Homo sapiens: one gene and its partner. The protein of the gene in region 2 purifies or fractionates together with the protein of the main gene of each other region. This does not show direct contact. Each region holds a gene or a part of one and is shown on either strand. Other genes may lie near its edges.

Region 1 (3,652 bases), on a different chromosome or scaffold from region 2:
TGAAGTCGTCATATTGGCCCACCACCAGAATGAACAAGTCCAGGCTACAACACAGGATCATGGACTCATCAGTAGTATGAAACTTCCTCTTTGACCCAGTAATATTTTTACAACTATATTAAAAATAGAGAAGTGGACAAAGATTTCTACTCAAGAATGCTCACCACAGGGTTATTGATAATAGCAAAGTAAGGGACAAAGAGGAATGGGGGCATGACTAAACTGAGCCATATTCACATAAAAGATATCCTGGAAGCATGTTTAAAAAATGTTTTCGTCCGAGTGCTGTGGCTCACACCCGTAATCCCAGCACTTTGGGAGGCCGAAGCAGGAAGATTGCTTGAGCCCAGGAGTTCGAGACGAGCCTGGGCAACAAAGCGAGACCCTGTCGCTACAATAATAATAATAATAATTATGCAGGTGTGGTGGCGTATGCCTGTAGCCCCAGCTACTTGGGAAGCTGAGATGGGAGGATCACTTGAGCCCAAGAGTTCCAGGCTGCAGTGAGATGTGGTCGCACCACTGCACTCCAGCCTGGGTGACAGATCAAGAATCTGTCTCTTAAAAAAAAAAAAATTAATGCTTTCCAAGAGTAAATATTCATGTGGAAGAATGCCCATTATACGCTGTTTAGTGAAAAGGGCTTAAAAACGACATACTGCAACACTTCATTATTGTTGCATGCATATCTGCAGATGTGCAGAGAAATACTGGAATGGAGAATTAGCCAGACTTTAACCATGTCTGTCCCTCTGTGTGAGATCACAGGTGGTTTGGGGGGTTTGTTGTTGTTTTGTTTTAACATAATACCTTTCCATATTTTCCAAATTCCTTATAATAATCCTGAGTTGTTCTTATAACCAGAGGAGTGGGAAACCCACAGTAAACTGCTTTTTGAAACTAAAATGCTTTCTGGCCCTGAGCACACCTCTCCAGGCATCCCTGCCTCACCCAGGCCCCCGTGGCCTCTTTGACTGTTGACTTCACTTTAAGCAGATGCCCAGGCCCTAGGTCTTCCACCGGGCCCACCGCCCGCCCCTGTGATGGAGCTCCCTACCAGCACCAGGGCGATGCAGTCCTCTGTGGTGGAGGCCGAGGAGCAGGTCACGCTGCCTTCGCTCAAGCCACTCCACTGGTTACACTTGCGCAGCTCCTGCTCGCCCACCGCACACCACACGACCCGCGCACGCCGGGCAGCCACTTCCTCCTCACCTGCCAGAGGGAAGACCGCAGGTGGCTGGGCAACCTGAGCTTTGCCAGGTTGTCCAACCTCCCCAGAGCCAGGGTCCTGCCCAGACTCTCCCTGGAACAGGAGCTACAGTACATGTGTGGACATGTGGACCCATACCCTCTCCTCCTCCACTTCTCAGCTCCAAGCCCCTTCTTCAGGTCCACAGAGCTCCCTGTGTTTCCCACTTCTGTTCCTTTGGAGAAGTTCCCTGGCTTCTAATCTATCCATTAATCTTTAGAGTCAGGAGGCGCCTATTGTCTCTGTCTCTGAGGATAAACGCTCCATGACCCAGAGACCAGTGACAGTCCCAAGAGATGGCCTAGGGGACCTTGAGCCCAACCCTGACTTCCCCTAACGCCTGCAATCACCACCAATAACTACGGTGCAGCCTCTGGGTTCCCCCAGACTCCCACCCCCAGCCCCCCAGTAGAGAAGGAGCCATAGCTGAGTTCCCCCACCATGGTGTCCCCAACTAAGTTCAAGGTCTGGGCCTGGGAAGTGTGGGTAAATCCAGGCCCCCGGATTCATCCAGGAGGGGTCCTGGCTATCTTTGTTCATGTTCATGTTTCTCACTTAATAGGAGGCAAACTGATTTTTCTGCCAGGCCTGGGGAGCCTGACGTGCACTGATCAGGTGGCCAGACTATTCTTTTAGAGACACCTGACCTAATCCACAGAAGACACTCACACCTGCATCAAACCTCCACGATGACCCCACAGTGTCTGGGAAAAGGAGTGACCGCCACAAAGTAGGGCCACCTGCTGGGAAGTAGAAGACCACACCAGGCGGACCTCAGGACCCTCCTGGGCTCACTCACTTTTCCTCAAGTTCTGGATGGCAGTGAAGTAGCCGGAGCCAAGGTACAGCCCAGAATCTATCCTCGGGGGCACCCTCGAAAACCCAATGGCAGAGTCCTTGAACAGCAGATCTTTCTGCCCACTAGGGGAGCCAAAGAGCTGGAATTTCGGTGACTTGTCCTTTCCAAACTTTTCCTAATTAAGAAAAAATAGAATTATGGTGTCAATGGTAAATAGGGAGGAAACAAAAAAATGATGTTAAAAAAGAGTATCTGGAGCTTTGGGATCATTCTAACTGAGAGCAGGAGCCTCGGTTGAGACCCTCCTGCAGAGGGACTTGTGCCATCTCGGAGACCCAAGCTCAGCTATGGCTCATTCTTTGAAGAGTTGCTGAGGTCCAAGCACCTTAGGGCCCTGAGAAGATTGCATCGACCACCCCCTGCTTCTGCTCCCATCATAAGACGCTGTCAGCCCGTGTGACAGAAGAGTTTCATTGCTTCTGCTGTCCACAGTACAGCCTGGGCAAGCAGCCCAATGCATTAGTGTGCTATCCTGCAGCAAAGCTACAGGACTTCTGGAGTGGCAGAAGTCAGGGAAGTAAGAAACCTTGCTCCCTGCCCCCCATATCCAAGCAAGTGGGGAGGACCGTGGGTGAAGATACCTGTGCCTGGCGGAGAAGATTCCAGATGGCATCCTCCTTGCCATTCACACTTCGTGCCACAACGGCATGAGAAGGGACCCGGGCCAGATGGCAGTCTTTGAACTTGTCCACTGGCTTCCGAGTGTTGTCTGGGCAGAGTAACTCATACTCGTCCCTTTCAGCCTCGTCTGACAGGTCCTCTGCAGGGAAGGTGAGGTGGGAGGGAGTCTAGATAAGCCGACTCCAGCAGTAACCTCGAGCTATAGTTCCCCTTCTCCCTATAGAATTTTGAGCTTGGGGAGATAGCTGACAAAACTGAGGGTCAGAAAGGCAGGGGTTTGCTCCAGAACACTCAGAAAGGTAAAGGTAGTGCCCCAAAAGCCTCAGGGGGCAGCCGAGGTGTGATCCTCATCCTAAATCACTTAGGCCACCCTGGGGTTCCCGTGCAGCTGCTGCCTGGCAGGCCAGAGAGGCCAAACCAGACCCGTCTGTTTCTGCGGCATCTCTGCCTGGAAAAGTCACTTTGCAGAGACAAGCTCAGGGGGCCACCAAGGGTTGCTCCCTTACTCACATCTCTGGGAAGAATAAAAATGACAAAAATGTTAACAAGGCAGGGAATAAGGCAGGAAGGTGAGACACTTTCCAACACTGAGTATATCAAAAGAAGGGGAAGAATGGTTTTATGAATGAGTTCAGGCAAATGTGGAATATCATATATAAGTTGCTTCAGAATGTGTAAAGTGAAAAAAATCTTGCCCGAGTCATTTTATGAGATTAGTACAACCTTGATGTCAAAATCAGAAAAAGTATAGGAGGGAAGAATTAAAAGTTTATTTTACTTACGAACATAAATGCAAAATTTGTAAATAACGTACTAACTAACTCAATCTCACAGAGTATTTAAAAAGCTAATAGATTGGAATGAAGGTTTACCAGTGTATTCCATTAACAAAAGAATGGCTGAACATCAAAAAAACTAAAGTA
Region 2 (3,652 bases):
TGCTGGGATTACAGGCTTGAGCCACCGTGCTCCATGATAACTTTTCAGAAAACTTTTTTCTACTTTTTGCCACAACTTTTTTACATTTTTATCCGATAACTTTTTCACCCCAAAACTTTTTTAATCCCATACCTTTTTTATGTTGTGTTCTTTCAATAAACACTTGCATAGTTATACTACATTTTTGTAACAATGAAACAGATTATCTCATGCCAAGCATGCCCAGTATTTGCACAATATCAATACTTTTAATACTATAGTTTTCAAGACACGCAAAATAAAATTTTAAGGCAAAAACAGCACTTTGCAACAATTTAAAAATTTATTGCATTACAGTAGCATCACATCAGCAGTCAATAATGCCACTTTAAGCAAAAGTCTTTCAGTATTTCCGTTACACATTCTGTTAACAAGAACTCATACATTGGTAAAATTCATTCTAAGAAAACTTGGCAAATAACGCTTTGGCCTGGAATTGGCATTTCTTTCTCTACTTTTCCTTCCCACCATTTCTTCCTTTTAAACTACAGGATTTATATTTTAAAATGTTTTATTTCAGAACATTAAGATAGCAGTTACATTTTTTAATATTTATATTATTTTAAAATGACTCTTTAAGATACAGTTTTAAACCCATGGGCTAGAAATCATACGACTGTTAATTAGCCGCATTATTTGGTCTAACATTTTTTATCATTCTGAAACTGGATTTGTGTAATACATTGATAAATTCATACAATTTGGAAGAGTCAGTTGAAGTTACAAGGACCCAATATCTGCCCTCTTTCAGTGAATGCCGGCAAATCTGTTATTCCATTGGCAAAATCGTATTGCTGCTCTCCTGTTAATCTCACATTTATAAAAGGATCATGAGGCTGCCAAGTGCTAAAAATGGAGATGGTCTAGTAACTAGAAAACTCCCCACCCCAGGGAGCACACCTACATATCTCCCTACAACCTAATAATGTGATGTGTTTTGGAACACAGACATTAGAACTTCATGAAGTTTTAACTGTTGATTCTTTCCCAAGCATCATCAAGTTATGATTTAGGCAATGTATGATTGAAATGCATTCATTCATCATGCATAGGCACAATCACAGAAATATTGCACAAAGTATGTCCCTGACTGAAAATGAGAGGTACAAAAACGTATTTCACTCTTCGTAAAGAAGTTTGTGAGGAAATACAACTCTGCGATCGTATAGACATGTTTCCTGATAATACAGACATTCACAAACAGTAGATTGCACCACAGTGTGTAAACATTTTAAGTTGCATAAACTTCTCCTTGATTTTCAAAGATAATATAATACTGTCTACTAAAATTCCTTTTTGTTTCAACTAAGTACTCTCACATATATTAGTTTATAATAATGTTTGTTATTACTTTCTAAAGTGTTTTCCACTCAAGGAAAAGAAGTAAATTCCTATGTCAGAGTAACCGAGGTGGTTGAAGAATAGGTATTAGCCAGAGAGGTCTAGATAGTAAAATCAAACTTCAAGCCTCAAAGAAGCTCCATGAACAGAGAGGAATGCCAGGTGTCACACAGCTTTCCTTCACTCTAATTCATTCTTGACTAGAGCCTGTATGCCTGTTTCAGAGACATTTAAACTCTTAAAGGATTTCTTATGATCTTCACTAAATACATTAAGAAGAATGCCAACCAGCGCCCTTTCGTGTACTGGGACAGGTAGTCATGTGATTAAAACAGGGAACACGAACTCTGACTTTAAAATGTATTGTAGATACAAATGCTCTAAGCTAGGAAAGGTTTTTCACACCCACAGCCAATGATGGCAGCCTTTCATTCCTCGGAAATAAGCCCTTTTTAGGTCACTGAAAAAGAGTGCAACTGCTGCAGCTCACGATGCAATATCTTCATGAGCCCAGAGCACATACAAATCCAAAGGGAACTGCCACAGTACACTGCTCATTCTTGGCACCGGAACAGATGAAACACACTGTATCCTGCACATACCTGCCAGAGCAGGCCACTTTCCTCTTCTGTGAGATTTAGAAAGCTCCCCCAAAAGGTTATCACTCCCATCACCAATACACAGAAAATGGAGGAAAGGCTGTTTCCAGTTCTCGGCCTTTAAACAGCTCTAAATGTCAGTACTCACAGTGGCATATTACAAAGTAATAAACAGTGCACACTTGAGGGCAAACCGCATATTGAGCTATAGAAGAGCTCACTGTGATTAAGATGAGATCAAACATCATAGCAGAACATTAGCAAATTTTATCTGAATTCTGTAATGGACATCCATGCTGCAATAACATTAGAAAAGCACGGGAGCCTATTCCAAACCAGCGAGAACAGTTTTGTGCAAAGAGTGGGTCTTTGTGTGTTTGAACTCCCACCACGTAAGGGCAAACTCGATATGCATGCTAATGACCTACAATTATGAAATGAAAAAAGAAAAATGCTGAAGGATGCCAGAGTGAACATCAGTGAGAGCCACAGAGACCCACTCTCTTTTAACTTTTTACAAATAAACTTAAACTATAAATTAGAAACACAAATAATCATGAGTAGCTCTAACATTCAAATGAAGTAAATGAATTGTGTAGGAGATTAACCCCATAACTTTGTTTCGTTTTTAAAAATTTCTTGAGCAGCTCTTTGATGATGGTGGTGTTTATCTCCTTCTTCTCGGCAGCCAAGCCCAGCAAAAGCATGGCACACAGCAGTTGCTGCCCAAGCCTGGGTGCTCCTGGTGGTCCTGCATCTCACCAAGGAGCTGCACGACTGGCTGTGCAGTAGGGTTGTCCTGGGAAGAACCCTCCCTGGCTTCTCCTTGTGCAGGCTCCACGCTGTTGGTGAGGCTCGCCTCACAAAGATCTTTGGAGAGAGGGAGGCGGGGATCTGAGTGGAGTGCTAGCCGCCCCCCGCTCCTGCCTGCTCACCCCGCCTGGGGGCTCTACTCACCACCATGCTTGTCGGCAGCCCCGAGCTCCTGGGGGGCTGGGGCTCCTGGACTGGGTTCAGCAGCAGGGTTCCGGGCAGCGGCCAGGAATTTGCCGTGCCCCTCGCTGTAGCTGCCACAAGCCGCAACACCATCTCCTGCAGCTCCAGCAGCTTCACCTGAAGGGACGGGTGCTCAGCTGTCAGGCCGCTGCTGGCGCCCACCCTCATGCCCACCCCACCCACACCCCCACCCCACCCCCACCCCCACAGGGATGTTGCACACCCTACCTTCCTCTCCTCCTTGTCCTGGGCCAGCCTGATGATGGCCTCCTCCCGGTGACGCATCTTTGGCACTGTCCCCTGGCTCTGTTAGAAGGCGATGTACTTTCCTGCGGGAGGACAGGGCTCAGACGCTGGGGCCCCTCCCATAGCCCTGCAGCTCCCCCTGCCGTGCCCTGGCCTCCCACTCACTGATGGCATCTCTCTCTCCGGTACTGGATGAATCCAAGTTCCAGTTTCTCCACATGCTCCCTCAGGTCCGCCTTCTCCTCCAGGAGGTCCATAAGGCCGCTCTGGAGCCAAAATAATGGGGTCACATCTCAGCAGCGACCTGCCCCAGCCCTGCCCTTCTTGGCCCATGCTAGGACTCACTCCCCTCCAGCTTCTCCATGACTTCCTGCAGGGCCCGGAGGGTCTCCCCACTCACAGACTCGCCCCCAGTCCCTGAGGCTGGGACT

Evidence for each region. Proteins that work in one complex are often made in the same cells at the same time.
Region 1: the proteins of GOLGA8A (region 2) and LTF purify together in Homo sapiens (affinity purification with mass spectrometry; one large-scale study listed by BioGRID and IntAct). This does not show direct contact.

Annotation. Positions count from the first base shown.
Region 1 is NC_000003.12:46,447,806-46,451,457, forward strand, and holds part of LTF (lactotransferrin isoform 1 preproprotein), read right to left. Parts: intron 2,869-3,652; coding exon 2,690-2,868; intron 2,224-2,689; coding exon 2,049-2,223; intron 1,213-2,048; coding exon 1,058-1,212; intron 1-1,057. UniProt on the Homo sapiens protein: Transferrins are iron binding transport proteins which can bind two Fe(3+) ions in association with the binding of an anion, usually bicarbonate. Lactoferricin binds to the bacterial surface and is crucial for the bactericidal functions.
Region 2 is NC_000015.10:34,378,765-34,382,416, forward strand, and holds the end of GOLGA8A (golgin subfamily A member 8A), read right to left. Parts: coding exon 3,622-3,652; coding exon of another isoform or gene 3,567-3,621; intron 3,488-3,566; coding exon 3,387-3,487; exon of another isoform or gene 3,305-3,386; coding exon 3,204-3,304; intron 3,093-3,203; coding exon 2,937-3,092; intron 2,850-2,936; coding exon 2,647-2,849; 3' UTR 304-2,646; downstream 1-303. UniProt on the Homo sapiens protein: May be involved in maintaining Golgi structure.